7 linked regions of the Homo sapiens genome follow. The protein of the gene in region 1 purifies or fractionates together with the protein of each later gene. This does not show direct contact. Each region holds a gene or a part of one and is shown in the gene's direction. Other genes may lie near its edges. The genes, in order: CPNE7, RBM6, EBF3, UTRN, SUPT5H, IDH2 and BAHCC1.

Region 1 (3,500 bases):
TCAAAAAAAAAAAAAAAAAAAGAAGCCTCCTTGTGAGCAGCAGGTCCTACGGTGGCCACTGCTTCCTTGGTGATGCTCTCTGGGTTACGGCCTCCACAGCCAGCCCAAAAGTGGCTTCTGCAAGTCGTGATGAGAGTGTCTGTTGATGTGCTGGGCCCTGCTGGACACTGCGCTAAGCACTTCCTGTGCTGCACGGAATCCTCACACCTTGCCAGGACGGGTCCTTCTTTTTTATTGAGGTAAAATTTACAGGCCGGGCACGGTGGCTCACGCCTGTAATCGCAGCACTTTGGAAGTCCGAGGTGGGGGGATCACGAGGTCAGGAGTTCGAGACCAGCCTGGCCAACATGATGAAACCCCATCTCTACTAAAAATAGAAAAGAAATTAGCCAGGCGTGGTGGTGCGTGCCTGTAGTCCCAGCTACTGGGGAGGCTGAGGCAGGAGAATCACTTGAACCTGGGAGGCAGAGGTTTCAGCGAGCCGAGATCGCGCCACTGCACACCAGCCCAGGTGACAGTGAGTCTTTGTCTCAAAAAAAAAAAAAAATTTTACGATAAAATGCATCAATCTTAAGGGTTGAGAATGACAAGTTTAGGTGACTGTACACAGCTGACCATCACCCGTCACACAGAACATCCCGTCACACGGAACATCTCACCTGTCACACAGAACATCCCTTCACCCCTCACACGGAACATCCTGTCACCTGCTGACACGGAACATCCGATCACCCGTCACACGGAACATCCCATCACACAGAACATCCCATCACTTGTCACATCTCACCCATGACACGGAACATCCCGTCAGCCATCACATCTCACCCGTCACACAGAACATCCCTTCACCCATCACACGGAACATCCCATCACCCATCACATCTCACCCGTCACATGGAACATCCCTTCACCCATCACATGGAACATCCCGTCATCTGCTCACATGGAACATCCCATCACCCATCACACGGAACATCCCATCACCCATCACACAGAACATCTCACCCATCACACGGAACATCCCGTCACCCGCTGACACGGAACATCTCACCCGTCACACGGAACATCCCACACCCATCACACGGAACATCTCACCCATCACACGGAACATCCCGTCACCTGCTGACACGGAACATCTCACCCATCACACGGAACATCCCGTCACCCGCTGACACAGAACATCTCACCCGTCACATGGAACATCCCGTCACCCGTCACACGGAACATCCCATCACACGGAACATCTCACCCATCACACGGAACATCCTGTCACCCGCTGACACGGAACATCTCACCCGTCACACGGAACATCCCATCACCTGCAGACACGGAACATCTCACCCATCACACAGAACATCCCGTCACCCGCTGACACAGAACATCTCACCCGTCACACGGAACATCCCGTCACCCGCTGACACAGAACATCTCACCCGTCACACGGAACATCCCGTCACCCGCTGACACGGAACATCTCCCCCATCACACGGAACATCCCATCACCTGCAGACACAGAACATCTCACCCATCACACGGAACATCCCGTCACCCGCTGACACAGAACATCTCACCCGTCACACGGAACATCCCATCACCCGTCACACGGAACATCCCATCACCCGTCACATGGAACATCCCATCACCCGTCACACGGAACATCCCATCACCCATCACACAGAACATCTCACCCATCACACGGAACATCTCACCCATCACACGGAACATCCCGTCACCCGCTGACACAGAACATCTCACCCGTCACACGGAACATCCCATCACCCGTCACATGGAACATCCCATCACCCATCACACGGAACATCTCACCCATCACACGGAACATCCCGTCACCCGCTGACACGGAACATCTCACCTGTCACACGGAACATCCCATCACCCGTCACATGGAACATCCCATCACCCATCACACGGAACATCTCACCTGTCACACGGAACATCCCGTCACCCGCTGACACAGAACATCTCACCCATCACACGGAACATCCCATCACCCGCTGACACAGAACATCTCACCCGTCACACGGAACATCCCGTCACCTGTAACACGGAACATCCCGTCACCCATCACACGGAACATCCCATCACCCGTCACACGGAACATGCCATCACCCGTCACACGGAACATCCCATCACCCGTCACATGGAACATCTCACCCATCACACGGAACATCCCGTCACCCGCTGACATGGAACATCTCACCCATCACACGGAACATCCCATCACCTGTCACACGGAACATCCCGTCACCCGTCACACGGAACATCCCGTAACCCATCACATGGAACATCCCGTCACCTGTCACACGGAACATCCCATCACCCGTCACATGGAACATCTCACCAATCACACAGAACATCTCACCCATCACATGGAACATCCCGTCACCCGTCACACGGAACATTCCGTCTCCCGCTGACACGGAATATCTGATCACCCATCACATGGAACATCCCATCACCCACTCACACGGAACATCCGATCACCCGTCACACGGAACATCCTGTCACCAGTCACACAGAACATCCCGTCACCCATCACACGGAACATCCCATCACCCGTCACACGGAACATCCCGTCACCCATCACACGGAACATCCCGTCACCCGCAGCTGCCCCTGCCCCTTTGTGGCCAGCTCCCCGCCTGGTTCGTCTCTTCTGGAATTCCACGTCCATGAATCACAGCGCGTGTTCTCCCTGCTGTGGAATTCTTTTACCCAACATAATGTCTGCGTGACTCATCCCCCTGCAGCCTCGGTCGGAGCTGGCGTGCCATCGATCCTGTTGTCCTCCCCATTTTTTAGATAAGGAAACTGAGAGTTAGGGAGGGCACAGATGGAAGAGGATGGCACGGACACAGAAATATGGACATGCTTTTTTTGTTTTTTTGAGTTGGGTTCTCACTCTGCCGCCCAGGCTGGAGTGCAGTGGGACAGTCACAGCTCACTGCAGCCTCAACGGCCTGTGCTCAAGCAATCCTCTCACCTCAGCCTCCTGAGTAGCTGGGACTACAGGTGTACGCCACCAGACCTGGCTACGTTTTGCATTTTTTGAAGAGACAGGGGTCTCACCATGTTGCCCCAACTGGTCTTGAACTCCCGGGCTCACCGATCCACCCACCCTGGGCTCCCAAAATGTTGGGATTATAGGCATGAGCCACTGTGTCTGGCCTGGACACCTTTCTATGTACACACAGGTGCACATGTATGTCATAATCCGTGCAGGACATCCTATGCCTGTTCACATAAGCACACACACAGGGTCCGTGTGGACACCTGCGTGCAGATATGAATGTGTGTGTGAGCACGTGTGCTGTGGATATGTGCAAACTTCCAGCAATGAGGAGGCCCCTCGTGGGTTCCTGCTCTGTGGCCACCCAGCTGACCTGCAGGGCACCACGGTCAAGGGAGAAGCTACTGGCATCCAGTCCCTGTGCTGTGGCTTTGAGCCTGACCTGACCTCTGACCCCTGACTTCTGCCTCAA
Region 2 (3,500 bases), on another chromosome or scaffold:
CTCAGCCTCCCGGGTAGCTGGGATTACAGGCGTGTGCCACCACGCCTGGCTAATTTTTGTATTTTAGTAGAGACAGGGTTTCACCATATTAGCCAGGCTGGTCTTGAACTCCTGACCTCAAGTGATCTGTCCACCTTGGCCTCCCAAGGTGCTGGGATTACAGGTGTGAGCCATCTCACCCGGCCTATTTTCTGTTTCGTTTTTTTTTTTTTCATTAGTAGCTATCCTAGTGGATGTGAAGTGGTATCTTATTGTGGTTTCTGATTTGCATTTCCCTGATGATAAGTGATGTTGAGCGTCTGTTCATGTTCTTATTGGCTATTTGCATATTCTCTTTTGGAGAAGTATCTATTCATGTCTTTTGTTGACCATTTTAAAATGGGGTTTTTCATCCTGGCTAACACGGTGAAACCCTGTCTCTACTAAAAATACAAAAAAAAAAAAAAAAAAAAATTAGCCGGGCGCAGTGGCAGGCGCCTGTAGTCCCAGCTACTCGGGAGGCTGAGGCAGAAGGATGGTGTGAACCTGGGAGGCAGAGCTCGCAGTGAGCAGAGATTGAGCCACTGCACTCCAGCCTGGGCGACAGAGCGAGACTCCGTCTCAAAAAAAAAAAGGGGGGGGGGGGGGGTTTTGAGCTGGGTGTGCAGGTGCACACCTGTATTCCCAGCTGCTCAGGAGGCTGAGGTAGGTGGATCTCTTGAGCCCAGGTGTTTGAGGGTGCAGTGAGCTGTGATTGCACCACTGGACTCTACCCTGGGTGACAGAGTGGCCCAGTCTCTAAAAATAAAATAAAATTAGGTTTTTGTCTGTGTTGTTGAGTTTTAGGAGTCCTTTATACACTCTAGATATTAATTCCTTGTCAGATATTTGACTTACAAATATTTTCTCTCTGTGGTTGTCTTTATACTCTGTTGATAGTGTCTTTTGATGCACAGAGGTTTTCATTTTGATGAAGTCCAATTTATCTTCTTTTTTTAAAATCTGTGCCTCATCTGCAAATATTACCAATCGAAAGTCATGAAATTTTTCCCCTAAGATTTTATAGTTTTAGCGCTTACGTTTGGGTCTTTGATCCAATTTGAGTTAATTTTTTATATATTTTTGTTGTGTAAGAGTCCCACTTTATTGTTATGCATGTGGATATTCAGTTTTCGGAGTACCATTTTCCATTTGGGAAAAAGATTGTACTTTCCCCATTGGATGGTCTTGACACCTTTGTTGAAAATCAGTTGACTAAAGTTCAAGACTAGCCTTGCCAACATGGCAATATCCCGTCTGTACTAAAAATACCACAATTAGCTGGGCATGGTGGTGCCTGGCTGTAATCCCAGCTACTCGGGAGGCTGAGGCAGGAGAATCGCTTGAACTGGGAGGTGGAGGCTGCAGTGAGCTGAGATTGCGCCACTGCCCTCCAGCCTGGGCGACAGAGCGAGACATGAGAATCTGTCTTAAAAAAAAAAGAAAATTGACCATATATGTGAGGATTTATTTCTGGTCTCTCCATTCAGTTGATTGGTCTTTATGTCTATCTTTATGTCCTTACTGCACTGTTGTGATGGCTGTAGCTAAATGGTACACTTAAAAATGGTTAAAATAGGCCAGGCACGGTGGCTCACGCCTATAATCTTAGCACTTTAGGAGGCTGAGGTGGGCAGATTGCCTGTGCTCAGGGGTTCGAGACCAGCCTAGGCAACATAGTGAAACCCCGATTTTACTAAAATACAAAAATTAGCTGGGTGTGGTGTGTGCCTGTAATTCCAGCTACTCAGGAGGCTAAGGCACAAGAATTGCTTGAGGCCTGGTGCTGTGGCTCACGCCTGTAATCCCAGCACTTTGGGAGGCCGAGGCAGGTCAAGAGATCGAGACCATCCTGGCCAATGTCATGAAACCTAGTCTCTACTAAAAATACAAAAAATTAGCTGGGTGTGGTGGCGCGCACCTAGTCCCAGCTACTTGGGAGGCTGAGGCAGGAGGATCACTTGAACCCAGGAGGTGGAGGTTGCAGTGAGCCAAGATTGCGCCACTGCACTCTAGATTGGCAGCAGAGTGAGACTCTGTCTCAAAAAAGAAAAAAAAAAAAAAGAATTGCTTGAACCCAGGAGGTAGAGGTTGCAGTGAGCTGAGATTGCACCCTGCACTCCAGCCTGGGCAACAGAGTGAGACTATTTACATACCCAATTTTTTTTTTTTTTTTTTTTTGGGATGGTGTCTTGCACTGTCGCCCAGGCTGGAGTGCTGTGGCGTGATCTTGGCTCACTGCAACCTCTGCCTCCTGGGTTCAAGCAATTCTCCTGCCTCAGGCTCTCAAGTAGCTGGGTTACAGGTACCTGCCACCACGCCTGGCTAATTTCTTGTATTTTTAGTAGAGATGGAGTTTCACTATATTGGCCAGGCTGGTCTCAAATTTCTGACCTTGTGATCCGCTGGCCTCAGCCTCCCAAAGTGCTGGGACTACAGGTGTGAGCCACCACGCCTGGTCATACCCAAATATTTTACCATAATTATACAAGAATTTATTATTTTTATTTTTTTCTTTTTAAATTCTTTAATCTTCTTCATTTGTTAATGCTTTGCTGAATCATAAAAAATTATGAAATAAAAAGAATAGGTCTTGTTGATTCTTCTTTTTACTTACCTCCCCCTACTTACCCCCTCTTACTTTATCAAAGAAAACACTTCATTTGAAACTTAACGGAAGTACATTCTCCCAGAGAGGAAAATCCTTCAGGACAACATTTTTTTTTGTTTGCTTGTTTTTTTTGAGACGGAGTCTCACTCTGTCCCCGAGGCTGGAGTGCAGTGGTGTGATCGCAGCTCATTGCAACCTCTGCCTCCCGGGTTCAAGCGATTCTCCTGCCTCAGCCTCCCGAGTAGCTGGGACTACAGGCGCCTGTCACCATGCCCTGCTAATTTCTGTATTTTTAGTAGAAACAGTTGGCCAGGATGGTTTCAATCTTATGACTTTGTGATCTGACCACTTTGGCCTCCCAAAGTGCTGGGAATACAGGCGTGAGCCACAGTGCTCAGCCAATTTTTTGTATTTTTAGTGGAGAAAAGGTTTCACCGTCTTTGCCAGGATGGTCTTGATCTCCTGACCTCGTGATCCGCCCGCCTCCCAAAGTGCTGGGATTACAGGCCTGAGCTACCACGCCCAGCCTTTTTATTTTTTTATTTTATTTATTTTATTCTCAGCCTTCTGGGTAACTGGGACTACAGGTGTATACCACCACGCTCAGCTAATTTATGTATTTTTAGTAGAAATGGGGTTTCGCCATATTGGCCAGGCTGGTTTTGAATTCCTGGTCTCAAGTGATCTGCCTGCCTCCGCCTCCTAAAGTGCTGAGATTACAGGCATGAGCCACTGGCCCAGACTACACTTAAAATTTTCAAATCGAGATATTTTGGGGGGCAAGGGTGCTTCTAGCAGCCACTAATTCCAGTTCTTGAGTGCATATTAAAGTTGCTACTGTTTAAAAGCTTGTAGTTGGATCCAGGGAGTG
Region 3 (4,205 bases), on another chromosome or scaffold:
TCCTTCCAAGAGGCGTGGGGGTCCCCAGACAACGTGAATCGGACTTCGACTTTCCCGATTAATTAAAATATTAACGTACACACGCTGCCAATTCACGGGAAAAGGGAGTGCTGCCCCAGACCCGGCGGGAGGAGGCTGCCCTGCAACACACTTGCGCCCTGCAATCTTTTTTTTTTTTTTCTTTTAATCAAAAGGGCCTGATTTCTCTTGGCAGGGAAGTGCCTAGGACAGTTCCTGGTCGTCCCCTGGGTCTCTGCTCCGTGTCGCGCAGACGTCCTTTGGGCGGGCCGCGCTCCTGGGCGCGGAGTCCCGGCTACAGGAGCTGGGCCGCGGGGCCCACAGTCTGCCCGCGCCCGGCTGCCCTCCCGATTCCTAGAAACCAGGTCGGGAAGCCGCGCGCCGCGCGCTCACCCGGGTCCGGCGGCTCCGAGGGCCGGGCCACAGCGCCCGCGGCGTCCGCTTGGTTTTTGGAGCAGTTGGCTCCAGGGCGGTCTGGCCACCGCGCAGGTCGCGCAGCCAGACACCCGGCTCCGGGTCGCCGGAGAGGCCGGGCGCGCTTCCCGTCGGCCCGGAGAGACCGGAGCCTTCTTTGTCACTCGCTGTGCGTAAGAACAGGCCAGGGGCCGGGGTCTGCCGCGGCCACCGGGGGAGAGGGAGCATCTGGCAGACCCTGCCTCCGACGTGATTCCCTGCCCGGCACTCGGCGGCCTCCGCCGGGGTAGGAAGCTTGGGGTACCTGGCGGGGCTCAGACCGGGACCGGCCGGCCCTGCAGCAGCCTTAGGTCTGCTTAGAAATCAGGCTGAGCTGCGCGTCCAGCCTTGGCCGGGGAGCCCTGGGCACCCCTCCTCCCAGTCCGTTGCCCGCTCCTCCCTCCGGCGCCCTCCCTGCGGTCGACCTGCCTCTTCCCACTTCTCCTTCGGGCGGCCCCAGGACAAGCTGCAGCCCCTTGCATTTATTGCATGCATCTGGGCAACTTGGGGCGCCTCAGCATTTTACAGCCCCCCGCCCCGCCCATCGTGTTCGACTGTGTGGCAGGTTTTGCAGGGAGGTATTAAGGGGCCAAACTGCAATTGTGCAGTGGCTGCGTTTGTTTCTTTTCAAGATTTATTTGGGCGAGTAGTAACTTCCTTGGCCGCGGCTGGACGCGAGGAGCCGCGGTGCGTGGCGGGGGGCGGCGGCGGCGCTCGGTGGCGCTCGGCGGCGGCGGGGCTCGCGGGGCTCGCGGGGCTCGGGCCGGCTCGCGGCGCCGTCAGGCAGTCAGTCGGCGAGCGCGGCGGCGGCGGCGGCGAGGGGCGCGGCGAGGGGCGGCCGCTCCCATATATGGCGCAGGCACCGCCCCCCGACGTCACCCTCTGACAGCGCCGCTCCCGGGGGCTTCGAGTTTTGGCTCCCGGGAAAGGGTCCATTCCTCGGGGAGAGAGGGCTGAGTTTTGTGCGCCTCCGTCCGCTGCGCGCGCCGCTCCAGGCCCCGCCGCGCCCCGCCTGCGCCCGGGACTGCGCCGCAGCACTCACTGCCCCGTTTATTTGTCTTTGGAGCAGGCGGGCCGCGCCAGAAGCGGGCGATCCCGCAGTGTCCTGCAGCCGCGGACGCCGCCTGGCTAGGATGACACCACGTTGAGCGCGCCTGCAAACAACAACAACAACAAGCGCCGCCGCGGCCACCGCGTCCTGCTCCTTCGAAGCGCCGCCGCCGCCGGTGGAGCCGCCTCCGCGCCCCTGGCCGTCCGGAGCGCCCGGCCGCTGGTGTATGTCGCGCCTGCCCGGGACGGGCTGAAGCCGGCGGCGGGGCCGGACCGCAGGCGCCGAGCAGGGCGAGGGCGGCCAGGGCAGCCGCCTGCCGCCAAGCCCCGAGCGCCGCTGCTCGAGGAAACGCTTTCGGCCGGGAGCTGCGGCCGCCGCCAGCAGTTTTCATGTTTGGGATTCAGGAGAATATTCCGCGCGGGGGGACGACCATGAAGGAGGAGCCGCTGGGCAGCGGCATGAACCCGGTGCGCTCGTGGATGCACACGGCGGGCGTGGTGGACGCCAACACGGCCGCCCAGAGGTACGTACCGGCCGCCCCCGCGCGCCCTGGCCCCGGCCCCGGCCCGGCCCGGCCCCCTCCGCCGGCCGGCGCCGCGCTCCTCACCGGGCCGCTGTCTCTTTCCTCCCGCAGCGGCGTGGGGCTGGCGCGGGCGCACTTCGAGAAGCAGCCGCCTTCCAACCTCCGGAAATCCAATTTCTTCCACTTCGTGCTGGCGCTCTACGATAGGCAGGGGCAGCCGGTGGAGATTGAAAGGACCGCTTTTGTGGACTTTGTGGAGAAAGAGAAAGTAAGTGCAAACACACGATCACACCCTCTCTCTTTCTAGAAGCGGGAGGCAGGCGGTGCCGGTGCGCGGGGGTTCGAGTGCCCCCCTAGGCGGCGGGCTCGGCTCCGCCAGGCCACCCCGCCGCCGCCACGTGCGGCCGCCCGGGACCGCCGAGGGCTGGGCAACTTCTCTGCGCCCTCGGACTTACTCGGGGCGAGGAGAACGCTGGGCTTCCAGCAGGAAAGTGACATCACCGCGCTGCTTCGAGCTAGGAATCCTGCCATGTGTGAGGCCGAGAGCCTCGGTCGCGGAGGGGGACCGAGCGTGGTGGCCGCGCCTGACACCGATCGCACTAAATGCAATTATTTATCGTTACTTTCAGGAGCCAAACAACGAGAAAACCAACAACGGCATCCACTATAAACTCCAGTTATTGTACAGCAACGGTAAGTGCCTGCTGCGTGCTCGCCGCCCCTGCAGCGGCTGGCTCTCCTTTTCTGCGCTGGTGAAAGGACATAAAGATTTGAGATTAAAATGACATGGATGTAAACACGAAATCTTCTCATGGCATAGAAGGAAAACAAAACATAAACGATCAATAAGTCGATGGCACTTCACATGATTAACCGGTGGGGCTTGAAGTAGAAAGTAAGAAAAAGATCGATACGGGCTCCAGCAGAACATCACTTTTAAGTGACTTTTTTCAATTTTGCAAATTAATGTTAATTATTAGGATGGGGGTAACTCCATAAACGGAGCATAACTTACTTCCTGTGAACGAGTTTTTTTTTTTTAAATCCTCGAGAGACATTAGAAAGAGTTCAGCCTCTCACTCAGTTTCCATTTGGTGCTTTTTCTTTTCTAAAAATAAACGACCACATGGGCCCACCGCACACAGCTACCAGGCCTGCTCTCCACCAGGCAAGTTCCTTGCACCTTGAAATGCAAGCCCTAAGAGCCTTAAGGTTCTTAGTTAAGAAAAGAAAAAAAAAATTAAGCGAGAAGTGGTGGGGTTCTCTTTCTCCCTTTCAAAGGGATTGCCTAAGTTCTGCTGCATCACCGTGGCAGCAGTCCTGAGTTACAGACTTCCTGTGCTCCGTGTGCCCTCCCCGAGGTGCAGCACTCAAATCCTGATGAGAATTTGTCTCTGTTTTTTTGCAGGAGTCAGAACAGAGCAAGATCTGTATGTTCGCCTCATAGATTCAATGACCAAACAGGTGAGAAAGTTTATGCCTCTGCACGAGTTTTCACTGCTGGGCCTGGGTTGTCCTGGGCTTCAGAGGCAAGGGCACTGACAAATGGATCTCGTGTATTTGTTTTCCATTGAGTTTCCTTGACATGCTAATGAGAATTCCATATTTATTGGAATGAATGAAGCGATTGGTAAAATAGTTTATGTTGTCATTAGAACAGGACATATATGCTTTATTAAATGTCTTGTGATTGGAATCATATTCTGTCTTAATTAATTATGGTAATTAATATTTGACAAAAATTTCAAGATGTCCCCCCTCTTGTTTATTTTTAAATGCTTCTCTCTCTGCTAGGAATCAGTTCATTTGGATTTTTTTTCCTATAACAAAGGCAGCTAACTCCTAAGCCCATCGAGTTGGACTTGATTAGTTCATTTTTTTTCTCCTTTCCAGTGTGATGGTCTAGTAACACGAGACGTTTATTTGGATTTAAAAGTTAAATGTGTTGGGGTGAAAAGTCACCTTGTTCTCCTCTAGTCCATCTTCACCTCGCAGCCCCCCAGCTCCATAATTCAAACTCCAAGCTCCAGGGGTCACTCCAACCCGTCCACTGCTCTGCCCCCTCTCCCACCCTCTGTCATACCTTGTAAATAACATAATTACAAGCAGTTCCTTATTAAATTATTTAACCTGTCTTGGTCAACTTTTCCGATGATAACT
Region 4 (3,500 bases), on another chromosome or scaffold:
AGAGCATAGAAACAATTTTAGAAAATAAAATAGCGTGAGGCTGGGCGCAGTGGCTCACACCTGTAATCCCAGAACTTTGGGAGGCCGAGGTGGGTGGGTCACGAGGTCAGGAGATCAACACCATCCTGGGCAACATGGTGAAACCTCGTCTCTACTAAAAATACAAAAATTAGCTGGGCATGGTGGCACATGCCTGTAATCTCAGTTACTCAGGAGGCTGAGGCAGGAGAATCGCTTGAACCAGGGAGTCGGAGGTTGCAGTGAGCTGAGATTGCACCACTACACTCCAGCCTGGTGACAGAGCAAGACTCTGTCTCAAAATAATAATAATAATAATAATAATAATAATAATAATAATAATAAATAAAATAGTGTGTTTCATTTGACTTTCATAGCTGATATACTTGGTTTTCTTCGTTTAGCTTATCTTGTTCCTAGAGCTCTTCATCTAGTAAAATACAGTAGAGTAGTTGGGCATCTGGATAATGTGGCTTTATGAATCAATGCCCATTGTGGTTGCCTAAGCATATAAGCCCAGGAAGTTTGGTGAAGGTCCTATGTTTTGTAAACGTTTCCCTTGATTCCAATAGTGATAGACTGAGAAGTGTAAAGTCAAGTGAGACTGAGTGGCAGGAATGTGTTCTATGTTCTCCCTTTTAGACAATTAATAAAGTGATCTTCTGTTGATTTTGCCTTTTGACTAGTCACCTTCTAAGAACTCTGTGTTTTATAGAAATAGAAAATTTTAAACTCTGGATCTCTGGGAGTAAAACAACTATTTTTAAAGACAATGTGCAGTTTTCCTTTTATAAGATGTAAATTGTGTTTGAATCATTACCGGGCATCACTGTAACCAGCAATATCTCAGGATTAGAGAAAGGGAGATTCAGATGTTTAAAATTGGTTTAAAGAGGCAAAATGAATGGCTTGTAAGACATTGTCAGTGAAAAAATAACTGAAGTTGTTTTAACCGCCCTTGTTCTTGAAGTGAGCACCTCTTTCCAGTTTTCTAGATGAGTAGTGGTAATTTTCCATCTCAGAAATTTTATTTACCTACTTAATTTTCTTCCTTGATTAGTATGAATTGTCCAACATAAAGATGATGTGGCTGGTGTTACTATTCCTTTGCCTGCCTAGAATAGAAATGATGGGGCAGGGGCATGACCCATATCTCCATTGTTCATATTGTTAGGAAAATGGTGATTTGTTTTGTATACTCTCCCCATTAACAGGGGTAATGCAGCATGGCTTGTGGTGTGAATGCTTTGCTTATGTCTCATATTCTCTTACCTGAGAGATGGTGGTGAACAGTGAACTTCTGCAATTGACATAGGTGACACATTCAAATGACAGCATGATATGCCCTCATTTATGATTTTCAGTAGACACAGTGTATTATAAAAATTTTCAAAGTTGCATTGTCTGTGGATCATACATGACTTTTTGTTTTTATGCCTTTGTTTTTTAGTTCAAGCTCTCATTATCCTGGATTTTGATCATATATGTTTATAAAGCAGGATTGTTTTATTGCTTTCCTACTCAATAAAAATGTGAAGCCATCCTTTTGGTATGCATGTTTTCCTCCGAATAGAAAGATTCCTTTGAAGATTTCCCATACTTTTTCATAGTCATTTTAGAGGATTTGAAGGTATTTTAGATTAAGGGAAGGACTATGATAAAACCTATTATTATATATGACTTTATTATTTTTAGGAACATTCTCTACTTTTCAAAAATATCGGACAAATAAAATGATAAGATTTCAGTAATAAAAATGGTGGCATTGTTTTCCCTGATGTGTTTCTAAAGTAGATCATCTTATTGCTGCCTCAGTCTTTTGGTATTTGCTTATTTATGTGCAAGGTCTCCAGTGGGCTTGCTGATGCTTCTAGAGCCTGGCTGCTGGCTTAATATTCCTGCACTCACCAGGTTGCTTCCCAGCATAAGGCATCCTCGCCATTCATTTTTTAATTTATATGACACTGTGCTTTGGTCACCAAGACCTGAGCTGCCTCCTAGTTTTTCTAGCCAGCTTTCTTTTTTTCTTAGGACAAAGGGTCTTCTTTCTGAAGTCGGGCCTAGACAGATCAAGGTAGTTGATCTTATTTCACTGGTTCAGGTGATAAACTAGCAGAGTAGAAGCATGGCATGGATGGAAACATATATTATCTAGAAAAGGCAGTGGCTGAAGTTCTACTGATGTGCCTGAATCGTTATTTTAAAATGTCTTTCTTCTTTGTTCAAGGAATTGAAATAAACATCATTATTTTTAAGTGCATCATTATAAATTTTTGTTGTTGTATTAAAAGGGACTTAAGAAAGTGATCATTATGTGTGACATTGCCTCACTATTCTGAGTGTTAGAATGTTCAGAATAAATTCAAGACACATTTTGTAATATATAGACTGTTTGCTTGTTTTTCATGTCTGCATAGAAGGCCTTCCTACTGAAGAAATAAAAAATGTTCTGGAGAAGGTTTCATCAGAATGGAAGAATGTATCTCAACATTTGGAAGATCTAGAAAGAAAGATTCAGCTACAGGAAGATATAAATGCTTATTTCAAGCAGCTTGATGAGCTTGAAAAGGTCATCAAGACAAAGGAGGAGTGGGTAAAACACACTTCCATTTCTGAATCTTCCCGGCAGTCCTTGCCAAGCTTGAAGGATTCCTGTCAGGTAAGGAGCCAACGGTCTGGAAAGTGGAGGAATTCTATGTGCAGTTCCAGAGTTAAGGAGGGCTTCTCGTATCATGAACTTTAAGTTAATGCTGCCCTGATTAACTTCCTGTGAGGATGTTCATCTTCAGTGAGTTGTGTGACCGTATTTTCTCTTCCTTAGCGGGAATTGACAAATCTTCTTGGCCTTCACCCCAAAATTGAAATGGCTCGTGCAAGCTGCTCGGCCCTGATGTCTCAGCCTTCTGCCCCAGATTTTGTCCAGCGGGGCTTCGATAGCTTTCTGGGCCGCTACCAAGCTGTACAAGAGGCTGTAGAGGATCGTCAACAACATCTAGAGAATGGTAAACCCAACAATTTTAAAATCTCCTGTCTCAGTTTGCCTTAATGTAAACATGACTCCCAACATTTAGAACTTGAGTACACTTGCTTGCTTTGCACCAACCTTCTCCATTTTCCTTTGTGCCTGTATTGTTCAAAGTCTTAAAGTCTTCTGTATTCAGATTCTTTTCCAGATTCACACCTTTTTGTAAACATACAAGCAAGTTTCACATTCTCTAAAATTGTGTCAGTAGGATATAATAATAATTTTTTTTTTTGTAGCTACAGGATCTCACTCTGTCACCCAGGCTGGAGAGCAGTGGTGCAATCATAGCTGCAGTCTTGACCTCCTGGGTTTCAGTGGTCCTTCTGCCTCAGCCTACTGAGTAGCTGGGACTACAGGCATGCACCACCATGCCTGGCTGGTTTTTTATTTTTAGTAGAGCCAGGGTCTAGCTATGTTGCCCACGCTGGTCTAGAACTCCTGGGCTCAAGTGATCTTC
Region 5 (3,500 bases), on another chromosome or scaffold:
ATGGTGGGGGCAGGTGGGGGCAGGGAGCAGGTGGTCCCTAAGCGGGAAGGGGCGGGGATCTGACAGAGCTTCACCCCTTCCTGACTGCCCTCCTCCCTTCAGGGTGTATGGAGGATCTGATGAGCTCTCAGACGACATCACCCAGCAGCAGCTGCTCCCAGGAGTCAAGTAAGGGGGTTGGGATGGTGGGGGCCGTGCTGGGGTGCGAATCTTGTATGGGGTGATGGTGCCTAGACAGGTGGCTCCCTGAAATAAGTCAGGGCAGAGTCACACAGGCAGTGTGGTGGATGGCAGGGGTAGGGAGGGCAAGGTGGCACTTTCTCTTTCCTCTTGCTCCTGGGTAGAAGCGTGGGGAAGTCAGTGAGTGTGAGGGAACCTGGATGTGAAACCAGAGGAAGGGGGTGGCCCTGGGGGTTCGTCTGTTTGTTACTGAAGATCCAGCTTCACTGAAGGCCTTCCTTTTCCTCTGCTGCTTAGGGATCCCAATCTGTGGACTGTCAAATGTAAGGTATGTGCTCTGATCTCGGGGCTTGGAGGAGGTGGGAGAATGAGGGAGGCTGCTTTGTGGGGGAGAAGTGTCTGTCTGTCCCGGGTCTCCGTGGCCTGCCAGTCACTTGGTCCTTCTGTCTCCATCCCTCACTCCACGTTACTGACTGGCTATCTCCCACCTCCATCTTCCTGGCTGTCCATCCTTCTTTCTCTCTCCTCTCTTGGTCCTACTTTATTTTTCTTGCTGCTGTCTCCTTCCCCCTTTCCTGTGTCCTTTCCTCCATCCTGTCATCTCTCTCAAATCTGCCTCTCATCTTCCAGATTGGGGAGGAACGGGCCACGGCCATTTCCTTGATGCGCAAGTTCATTGCCTACCAGTTCACAGACACGGTAAGTCGGGTAGACAGGCGGCTTGGTGGGGAGACATGGCAACACCCAGAGGGAAGAACATTGTCAACTTCAGGGGTACCAGGTGCCTCTGTTGTGAGCAGAGCTGCCTGCTGAGTGAGCTGCTTGAGCTGGAATAAGACCACTGCCTAGATGGAAGGGCTCTTCTCGGCCTAGATGGATATGTTGTCTTTGTTCTCTGCATTTATGGCAGGGTCTTCCCACCCTTGTAGCCCTTTGGAAGTCAGCCAGCTAGCTTCCTGCACCTTTTCTTCATGAGAGTGGGTTTGCCTGTTCACCAGCCCTGTTGGGCTGGGGTCACCCACTTCACCACATGCCAGGCAGCAAATGCTGCATCCAAGGCCCAGGTCTTTCTTTAGACTGACAGAGTTTGAGTCCTGCCCTTGCCACTTCTTAGCTGTGTGACTCTGATGCACCTACTTCCCCTCTCTGGGCCCCTTGGTTGCCTCTCAGCATCATTAGGATTAAGTGGCTTTTGGCTGGGTGCAGTGGCATTCACCTGTAATACCAGCACTCTGGAAGGCTGAGGCAGGCAGATCACTTGAGGTCAGGAGTTTGAGACCAGCCTGGCCAACGTGGTGAAACCCCGTCTCTACTAAAAATACAAAACTCAGCTGGGCGTGGTGGTGCACACCTGTAGTCCCAGCTACTTGGGAAGCTGAGGCAGAATCACTTGAACCCAGGAGGCAGAAGTTGCGGTGAGCCGAGATCGCATCACTGCACTCCAGTGTGACAAAAAAAAGGATTAGGTGGCTTTATGTCCAGCTCTCAGCTAGGACTTGTTCTGCAGCTTGCATTTACTTAGCAGAGCTGTTGTCAAAGGCTTCATTGGCAGTTTGGGAACCAGGGCAAACGCTATGAAGGGTGCTGGCTGGTAACTTTCTCAGTTAACATGATCCCTGCTAGGGATCATGCTTTCACCTGTCCAGCCACTGGGTGTGACCCAGTGGGACCAAGTAGACAGTTGTAGGGTTTGCAAACTATGCTTTTAAATGTGCTCAAATGTCCTCCTCAAAGGCCGGCCATGGTGGCTCATGCCTGAATCTCCAGCACTTAGGGAGGCTGAGGTGGGTGGATCACGAGGTTAGGAGTTCGAAACCAGCCAGTTTGAGACCAGCCTGGCCAACATGGTGAAACCTTGTCCCTACCAAAAATACAAAAATCAGCTGGGCATGGTGGTGCTTGACTGTAATCCCAGCTACTTGGGAGGCTGAGGCAGGAGAATCACTTGAATCTAGGAGGCAGAGGTTACAGTGAGCCAAGACTGCGCTATTGCACTCCAGCCTGGGCGACAGAGTGAGACTCCGTCTCGGGGTGGGTAGGGGGTGGAATGTCTTCCTCATTATTATAGTAATAAGTGTCCCTGCCTGTCATGGGTGAGATTGGGATTTGTGGGGTATGATTCCCCAACAGGGAGGTTGAAAAGGTACCTTTTGGCTAGGTGTGGTGGCTAATGTCTGTAATACCAGTATTTTGGGAGGCTGAGGCAAAAGGAGTTCGAGGCCAGCCTGGACATCATAGTGACATAGTGACAACTGATTTCTACAAAGAAAATAATAATAGGCCGGGCGCGGTGGCTCACGCCTGTAATCCCAGCACTTTGGGAGACTGAGGCGTGTGGATCACCTGAGGTTAAGAGTTCGAGACCAGCTTCACCAGCATGGTGAAACTCCGTCTCTACCAAAAATACAAAAGATTAGCCAGGGGTGGTGGTGCATGTCTATAATCCCAGCTACTTGGGAGGCTGAGACAGGAGAATTGCTTGAACCCAGGAGTTGGAGGTTGTAGTGAGCCAAGCTCGTGCCACTGCACTCCAGCCTGGGCAACAGAGCGAGACTGTCTCAAAAAAAAAAAAAAAAAAATAATAATAATAATAATTAAAAGAAGTGTGCTCAAATCCTCCTACATGGTACCCTGGGGTAAAATTCTAGTTACTTCATTTGAGTTATGTCTCTGATTATTATTTTTTTTTGAGACGGAGTTTCACTCTTGTTGCCCAGGCTGGAGTGCAATGGTGTGGTCTCGGCTCACTGCAACCTCTGCCTCAGCCTCCCGAGTAGCTGGGATTATAGGCATCCGCCACCATGCCCGGCTGATTTTTTTGTATTTTTAATAGAGACGGGGTTTCACCATGTTGGCCAGCCTGGTCTTGAACTCCTGGCTCAAGTGATCCACCCGCCTTGGCCTCCCAAAGTGCTGGGATGGCAGTTCTGAGCCACTGTGCCCAGCCTAAAATTTAATTTTTTTAAAGTGTAAACTGTGGTGGATTTTATATATTGTAGTGTATTCATAACCATCATCACCATCTAATTCCAGGACATTTTCATTATCCCAAAAATAAACCGATACCCATTAGTCATCACTCCCCATTCCTCCCTCCTCACAGCTCCTGGTAACTATGAATCTACCTTCTTTCTCTGTGGATTTGACTATTGGAACTCTGAATGGTTCATACAAAGGGAATCATACAATATGTCGCCTTTCGTGACTGACTTGCTTCACTTAATGTTTTCAAGACTCATCCATATTGTAGCATATATCAAGACTTCATTTTTTTGTTTGTTTTTTTGAGATGGAGTTTTACTCTTCTTGCCCAGGCTAGA
Region 6 (3,500 bases), on another chromosome or scaffold:
ATTTACTGATTTTTAAAACTTGGTCACCAATTAAGATTTTTTTAAAAAACCAGTACCTGGAACAAGCAGAACAAGTCTCTGCTGGCCTTGGCTCATGTTGCTGTTCTCAGTTCCCCTGGGATGTTTGCTTCCAGGGAGGCCTGGGCACTCCTGACTTTGGTGACAGCCCTGCTTGCTCTCTCTCTGTTACCTGTAGGTTTCCCCTTCCACATTCACTGCCTCCGGGCAGGCACTGTTGTGTTTTAGGCATTTCAGTATCCCAGTGGGGTACTGGATAAGTGCTTAGTTAGCACCTGCCGGTGAGTAAATAATCAGGTCCTGTGGTCTCTGAGGGTTTGACACATCAGGTCTTTGATCTTGACCTTGAACTCTCCTAGCCATGCCTGCCTGAAGCCCAACCGTGGAGCCCAGGCTGAGGCTGAAACCTGAAGAACTGGCCCCAAGTGAGTCTCTCCTTAGGGCTCCTGATTATGATAGTTCATTTTTTTTTTTTTTTAACAAATTTGATTAGCTGTCCTCAAATTAACTCATAGGAGATGCTCCCCAGAACTAAACTAGCTCTGCAACAGCTCAACAGACTTTCCGCAGGTTCTGCAGCTCTTTCCACTCAAGCTTCAGAAAAAAGTGAAGGAATATTGTAGATTGGGTTCAAAATCCCCATCGCGTCTTGGGAAAGGCAGTAGAGCCAGCAGCCAGCCACCTTTTGTTCTCTAGGGAATGGAATAGTCCAAGGCTGTGTTTGTGTTCTGCTTCTCTACATCTGACCCACGGGTCTTCCAGAGGCTGCATTTGGGTCAGGGACCTGGGCTCTATCTTGCCTCTGATGCAGACCACACTCTCTGAGTCTCATTATTCCCCCTAAATGATCTCTAAGATTATTTTTAGATTAAAAAAAAAAAACAAACTCTTTGCATATCTTTGGAAAGTCAGTTGTTTGAGGTCTGTTAGGCTTTAATCACTTTTGTTTTAAATGTGCCGAGGTGGTTTCTAGGCCTGCTTTTCACAGGTATTCTGTCCCTTGTCAGTTCTTCCCACCCAGTTTTTTTTGTTTGTTTGTTTGTTTTTTTGAGATGGAGTCTCGTTCTGTTGCCCAGGCTGGAGTGCAGTGCCGTGATCTTGGCTTACTGCAACCTCCACCTCCCGGGTTCAAGCGATTCTCCTGCCTCAGCCTCCTCGGTAGCTGGGATTATAGGCACGTGCCACCATGCCTAATTTTTCTATTTTTAGTAGAGATGGGGTTTCACCATGTTGGCCAGGCTGGTCTTGAACTCCTTACCTTGAGTGATCCACCTGCCTCAGCCTCCCAAAGTGCTAGGATTACAGGCATGAGCCATTACACCCAGCCCCAACCCAGTGTTTTCAAATAATCATTCTCTTCCCTTCACCTGATTTGCTGTGTCTAATCTAGAGTGGAGCTGAAGACACATCACCACCTCTCTAAGGACTGTGTGTAACACAAGAGTAATTGGGCTGTAAGTGAGGCTGAGGAGTGCTGCTTTGAGGAAAGGGCACAGCTCTCAGCTGAGCTGGTGAGATTTCCCTGTGACTGAAGTTTTATTAGATCTTGTTCCCTGCTCTGCATTTGCTGCTTCTTCCCAGGCTGTGGGCAGAGGAGCAGGCTGGTGCCCCGGTGCCCCTATCTGCTGCAGGCTGAGGTTCAACAAGCCTTGTCCAAGGCAGCTGTACTGATTCATTGTTAGGTGGCCAGTTCCTGAGTTTTCTTTGAAATTCACTTCCCAGACTGTTGGGTATTCCTGCGAGTCAGACTCTCCTTCAGTAGCGTCCCCTGCCCCCTACCCTCCACTGGTCTCCCTGGACCTCTGATCAGCCCCTCATTGAGTCCTTTGATGCTTCTCTGGTAGGACTGACCCACCTGCGTCGGCTGGGATCAAGGGTTCTGAGTTCCATTCGCAGGTGCTGTAAGCCTGTCCTTCCTGTTGAATAGGGTCAGAGTCCTCGTGACTCTGCTGTTTTCAAGCTCTGTAACCTTGGGCAGTAAGCTGTTAACCTCTCTGAGCCTCAGTTTCCCACACTTAAAATGGAGATAATGGCCAGGCGTGGTGGCTCACGCCTGTAATCCCAGCACTTTGGGAGGCCAAAGTGGGTGGATCACCTGAGGCTAGGAGTTCGAGACCAGCCTGGCCAACATGGCAAAACCCCGTCTCTACTAAAAATACAAAAATTAGCCGGGCCTGGTGGCGTGTGCCTGTAATCCCAGCTACTCAGGAAGCTGAGACAGCAGAATCGCTTGAACCCGGGAGGCAGAGGTTGCAGTGAGCCGAGATCACGCCATTGCATTCCAGCCTGGGTGACAGACCAAAGACTCTGTCTCAAAAAATAAATAAATAAATAAATAAATTAATTAATTAAATAAAATGGAGGTAATGATACCTCCTTGGGGTTGTTTTTGGGATTAAATGGAATCACATTGTACAGCATTGGTACACTGTAAGGCACATAGTAGGCACTCAATACCTATCTATACTATTTCCTTTATCACCACAAGTTAGTTGAGGGCTCTTGGGTTGCACGCAACAGACAAAGTTAGTGACTGGTTAACTTGGAGAGGATTTTATTATGAGCTACACAGCGTAGCTCATAGAATTGCAGGGAAAACTATAAAGAACTAAGTCTTGGACAAAAGTAATATCTTGGCATGGGCCTGTAGCCCCAGCTACTAAGGAGGCTGAGGTGCAAGGATTGCTTGAGCCCCGGAGTCTGAGCCTGGCTTGGGCAACAGAGAGAGATAAAGAGACCCTGACTCTAAACAATAAGTAAATACATAAAAGAGGACCCAGGCCCTCCTTAGGAACTGGATGGCAGGAGCCCCTGGACAACCTCTTACTGATTTGGTGCTGGATGAGGCAGCCGCAGCTAGCCAGTGTTCTTTGTGTTGATCTCCTCTGCCTTCATATTCCAGGGGGAGAGGGTCTGACAGGCCAGACTGGCCCCCACCCTCTTGGCCACTGGTGGGCTGGGCATGTTTTTGGGTAGTTCTACCTAGCCAGATTAAAGTGGGGGTGGGGTGGGGAGTCCAGCCAGCCTGGGCAACAGGGCAAGACTCCATCTCTACAAAAAAATTTTAAAATTAGGCTGGCACGGTGGCTCACGCCTGTAATCCCAGCACTTTGCGGGGGTCAAGGCAGGTGGATCACTTGAGGTCAGGAGTTTGAGACCAGCCTGGCCAACATGGTGAAACCCTGTCTCTACTAAAAATACAAAAAATTAGCCAGGTGTTGTGGTGCACACCTGAAATCCCCGCTACTTGGGAGGCTGAGGCCCGAGAATCACTTGAACTCGGGAGGCGGAGGTTGCAGTGGGCTGAGATCATGCCACTGCACTCCCACCCTGGGGGACAATAGCGAAACTTCGTCTCAGAAAAAAAAAAAATTAAAAATAGCTGGGTGTGGTGGCATGCGCCTGTAGTCCCAGCTACTTGGGAGGCTGAGGTCAGAGGATCACTTGAAGCCAGGAAGTCAATGCTGCAGTAAGCTATGATG
Region 7 (2,687 bases), on another chromosome or scaffold:
TGCCCATGGGGCTGGCGCTGCGCAAGTACGCGGGCCAGGCAGAGTTCCCGCTGCCCTACGACAGCGACTGCCACAGCTCCTTCTCGGACGAGGACGAGGACGGGCCGGGGCTGGCGGCCGGCGTGCCCTCCCGCTTCCTCGCCCGCCTGTCCGTGTCCTCTTCCTCCTCTGGCTCGTCCACCTCCTCCTCCTCAGGCTCCGTGTCCACCTCCAGCCTCTGCTCCTCCGACAACGAGGACTCGTCCTACAGCTCAGACGACGAGGACCCGGCTCTGCTGCTGCAGACCTGCCTCACCCACCCCGTGCCCACCCTCCTGGCCCAGCCCGAGGCCCTGCGCTCCAAGGGCAGCGGCCCTCACGCGCATGCCCAGCGCTGCTTCCTGTCCAGGGCCACGGTGGCTGGCACCGGTGCGGGCTCAGGCCCCAGCAGCAGCAGCAAATCCAAGCTCAAGCGCAAAGAGGCCCTGAGCTTCTCCAAAGCCAAAGAGCTCTCCCGGAGGCAGCGGCCGCCCTCCGTGGAAAACCGGCCAAAGATCTCAGCCTTCCTGCCCGCCCGGCAGCTCTGGAAGTGGTCGGGGAATCCCACACAGGTAGGTCCAGCGGGAGGCGGGAGGAGCTCCTGGTTCCCAAGGAAACCGGGGCGGGCTCATGCGCCCCTGCTGCCCTTCCCTCTCCTTTTTCATCTTCCTACTTGATTTCAAGTTAAAAAATGTGGAAAACTCAAGGGAAGAACAAAGACCCATCCATGACCCAGTGAGGCAGCCGCTTCCGCTGGCCCCTCGCTGGAGCCCGTGGCCTGCGTGACAGTAGAAATGGCTTCATGTCGGGCCGGGCCTGAGCTGCACTCCGCATGGTGTGGCCTCACTTTTCCACGTTGATAAGTGGCGTGGCCAGCTGGAGAGCTGTGTATCCCCGCACTCAGATGCCTGCGTCTGTCCTCACCAGGGCACTGCTCGGGGGCGCATGTGGGGCCACTCGTGGGTCTTTTGCCTTCGTAAATAACACTGTGGTGAACGTCTTGTCCACATGTCCCTGTCCCAGATCCAGTGTCCAGACGTCATGATTCCATGTGCGGGCTCCGTGGAGGCGTGGCCCCTGCTCCAGATCCATGGCTGCCATGGCCTTAAGCCGCGGTGCTGCGGCTTCCTGCCCTTGTGGGCGCCCTGCACACTCACACTCAGACTCACACTCACACCCACACCACACCCTCCATGCCTCCTGGCCGCCACCTGTCCCCACAGCCCCCCGGCCTCTCAGAGCCACCCTGCCCATGTCCCCCACAGCGGCGTGGCATGAAGGGGAAGGCCCGGAAGCTGTTCTACAAGGCCATCGTGCGGGGCGAGGAGACCCTGCGTGTCGGGGACTGTGCCGTCTTCCTGTCAGCTGGGCGGCCCAACCTCCCCTACATCGGCCGCATCGAGAGCATGTGGGAGTCGTGGGGCAGCAACATGGTGGTCAAGGTCAAGTGGTTCTACCACCCTGAGGAGACCAAGCTGGGCAAGAGGCAGTGCGACGGCAAGGTGAGGCCCGGACAGGTGTGGGGCCCAGCCCCCCTCGGGGCCCCAGGGAGGGGACACGACAGCAGCCAGCACTGTGCCCCAACACGGAGCACCTGGCCCCACCACACAGCCCCCGCTCAGCAGGTACCACGGCCCTGCAGGGAGCCGCACAGCCCATGGGCATGCCCTAGAGCAGGGCTCCCAGGTCCCTCCCCACAGTGGGGGGCTGTGGCCCACAGCAGTGCTCAGCATCCGGCAGGTCTAGTTCACTCCTGGGATGTGTGGCGGCCCCCACCCCGTGGGCCCTCCCTGCCTCCAGTGCCAGCCTGAGACAGAAATTGCACTCAGCACACCCTCTGCTCCTCTCTGAGAAGAAGCCATTTTCCAGACCATATGACACGTCCATCTTTCAGGGAAATTAGTATTTCTCTGACTCCGACAGCCCCCAGAGGGTCCCCGGCAGGTTCCTCGGCCTCTGGACAGACAGGGCTGCCTGGACCTGGTCCCTGGCAGGTTCCTCGGCCCCGTCTTCCGGCCACACAGAAGTCCATCCGGTGACCCTTACAGAGCATGGGTGGGCGGGTGGTCTTTCCTGGCTGGGCAGGGGCGCACTGGCCAAGGCCGGCCACTGATGCCCCGCGCGCCTTGCCCCCAGAATGCGCTGTACCAGTCCTGCCACGAGGATGAGAACGACGTGCAGACCATCTCCCACAAGTGCCAGGTCGTGGCGCGCGAGCAGTATGAGCAGATGGCCCGGAGCCGCAAGTGCCAGGACCGGCAGGACCTCTACTACCTGGCGGGCACCTACGACCCCACCACCGGGCGCCTGGTGACGGCTGATGGCGTGCCCATCCTATGCTGAGCCGCCCACCGCAGATGCCTCCCACGTGCGCCAGGGACCCTGTGTGCGGAGCCTGGCGTCGGCCAAGCCACCGGGCAGGAGGCAGCCCCGGCCTCCCAAGGGCGCATCTGAGCAAATATGCAAAAGCCCACAGGGCAAGACCCAGGCTTTCTTACGGTTTTCCCTGGAAAGAGCGCTCCAGGTGTCGGAATCCAGTCCCGTCCCATCCTCTGCGGAGGGTCGGGCTGTGGCCCTCATGGGTCCCCGGCCCGCCCCACCCACAGCGCCCTCCGTTTCCCGCACCGGCAGTTCACGGGAGATTTGAATCCAAGCCATATTCCCTAGTA

Evidence for each region.
Region 2: the proteins of CPNE7 (region 1) and RBM6 purify together in Homo sapiens (co-immunoprecipitation; one large-scale study listed by IntAct). This does not show direct contact.
Region 3: the proteins of CPNE7 (region 1) and EBF3 purify together in Homo sapiens (affinity purification with mass spectrometry; 2 studies listed by BioGRID and IntAct, with this or other methods). This does not show direct contact.
Region 4: the proteins of CPNE7 (region 1) and UTRN purify together in Homo sapiens (co-immunoprecipitation; one large-scale study listed by IntAct). This does not show direct contact.
Region 5: the proteins of CPNE7 (region 1) and SUPT5H purify together in Homo sapiens (affinity purification with mass spectrometry; one large-scale study listed by BioGRID and IntAct). This does not show direct contact.
Region 6: the proteins of CPNE7 (region 1) and IDH2 purify together in Homo sapiens (co-immunoprecipitation; one large-scale study listed by IntAct). This does not show direct contact.
Region 7: the proteins of CPNE7 (region 1) and BAHCC1 purify together in Homo sapiens (affinity purification with mass spectrometry; 2 studies listed by BioGRID and IntAct, with this or other methods). This does not show direct contact.

What each region holds. Positions count from the first base shown.
Region 1 is NC_000016.10:89,578,758-89,582,257, forward strand, and holds part of CPNE7 (copine-7), read left to right. Parts: intron 1-99; coding exon of another isoform or gene 100-239; intron 240-3,500. UniProt on the Homo sapiens protein: Calcium-dependent phospholipid-binding protein that may play a role in calcium-mediated intracellular processes.
Region 2 is NC_000003.12:49,946,650-49,950,149, forward strand, and holds part of RBM6 (RNA-binding protein 6), read left to right. Parts: intron 1-3,500. UniProt on the Homo sapiens protein: Specifically binds poly(G) RNA homopolymers in vitro.
Region 3 is NC_000010.11:129,961,475-129,965,679, reverse strand, and holds the start of EBF3 (transcription factor COE3), read left to right. Parts: upstream 1-1,405; 5' UTR 1,406-1,911; coding exon 1,912-2,045; intron 2,046-2,156; coding exon 2,157-2,313; intron 2,314-2,674; coding exon 2,675-2,738; intron 2,739-3,453; coding exon 3,454-3,509; intron 3,510-4,205. UniProt on the Homo sapiens protein: Transcriptional activator. Recognizes variations of the palindromic sequence 5'-ATTCCCNNGGGAATT-3'.
Region 4 is NC_000006.12:144,456,335-144,459,834, forward strand, and holds part of UTRN (utrophin), read left to right. Parts: intron 1-2,435; coding exon 2,436-2,677; intron 2,678-2,839; coding exon 2,840-3,020; intron 3,021-3,500.
Region 5 is NC_000019.10:39,459,082-39,462,581, forward strand, and holds part of SUPT5H (transcription elongation factor SPT5), read left to right. Parts: intron 1-102; coding exon 103-168; intron 169-477; coding exon 478-508; intron 509-810; coding exon 811-879; intron 880-3,500. UniProt on the Homo sapiens protein: Component of the DRB sensitivity-inducing factor complex (DSIF complex), which regulates mRNA processing and transcription elongation by RNA polymerase II.
Region 6 is NC_000015.10:90,092,469-90,095,968, reverse strand, and holds part of IDH2 (isocitrate dehydrogenase [NADP], mitochondrial isoform 1 precursor), read left to right. Parts: intron 1-3,500. UniProt on the Homo sapiens protein: Plays a role in intermediary metabolism and energy production. It may tightly associate or interact with the pyruvate dehydrogenase complex.
Region 7 is NC_000017.11:81,461,457-81,464,143, forward strand, and holds part of BAHCC1 (BAH and coiled-coil domain-containing protein 1), read left to right. Parts: coding exon 1-590; intron 591-1,283; coding exon 1,284-1,520; intron 1,521-2,154; coding exon 2,155-2,361; 3' UTR 2,362-2,687.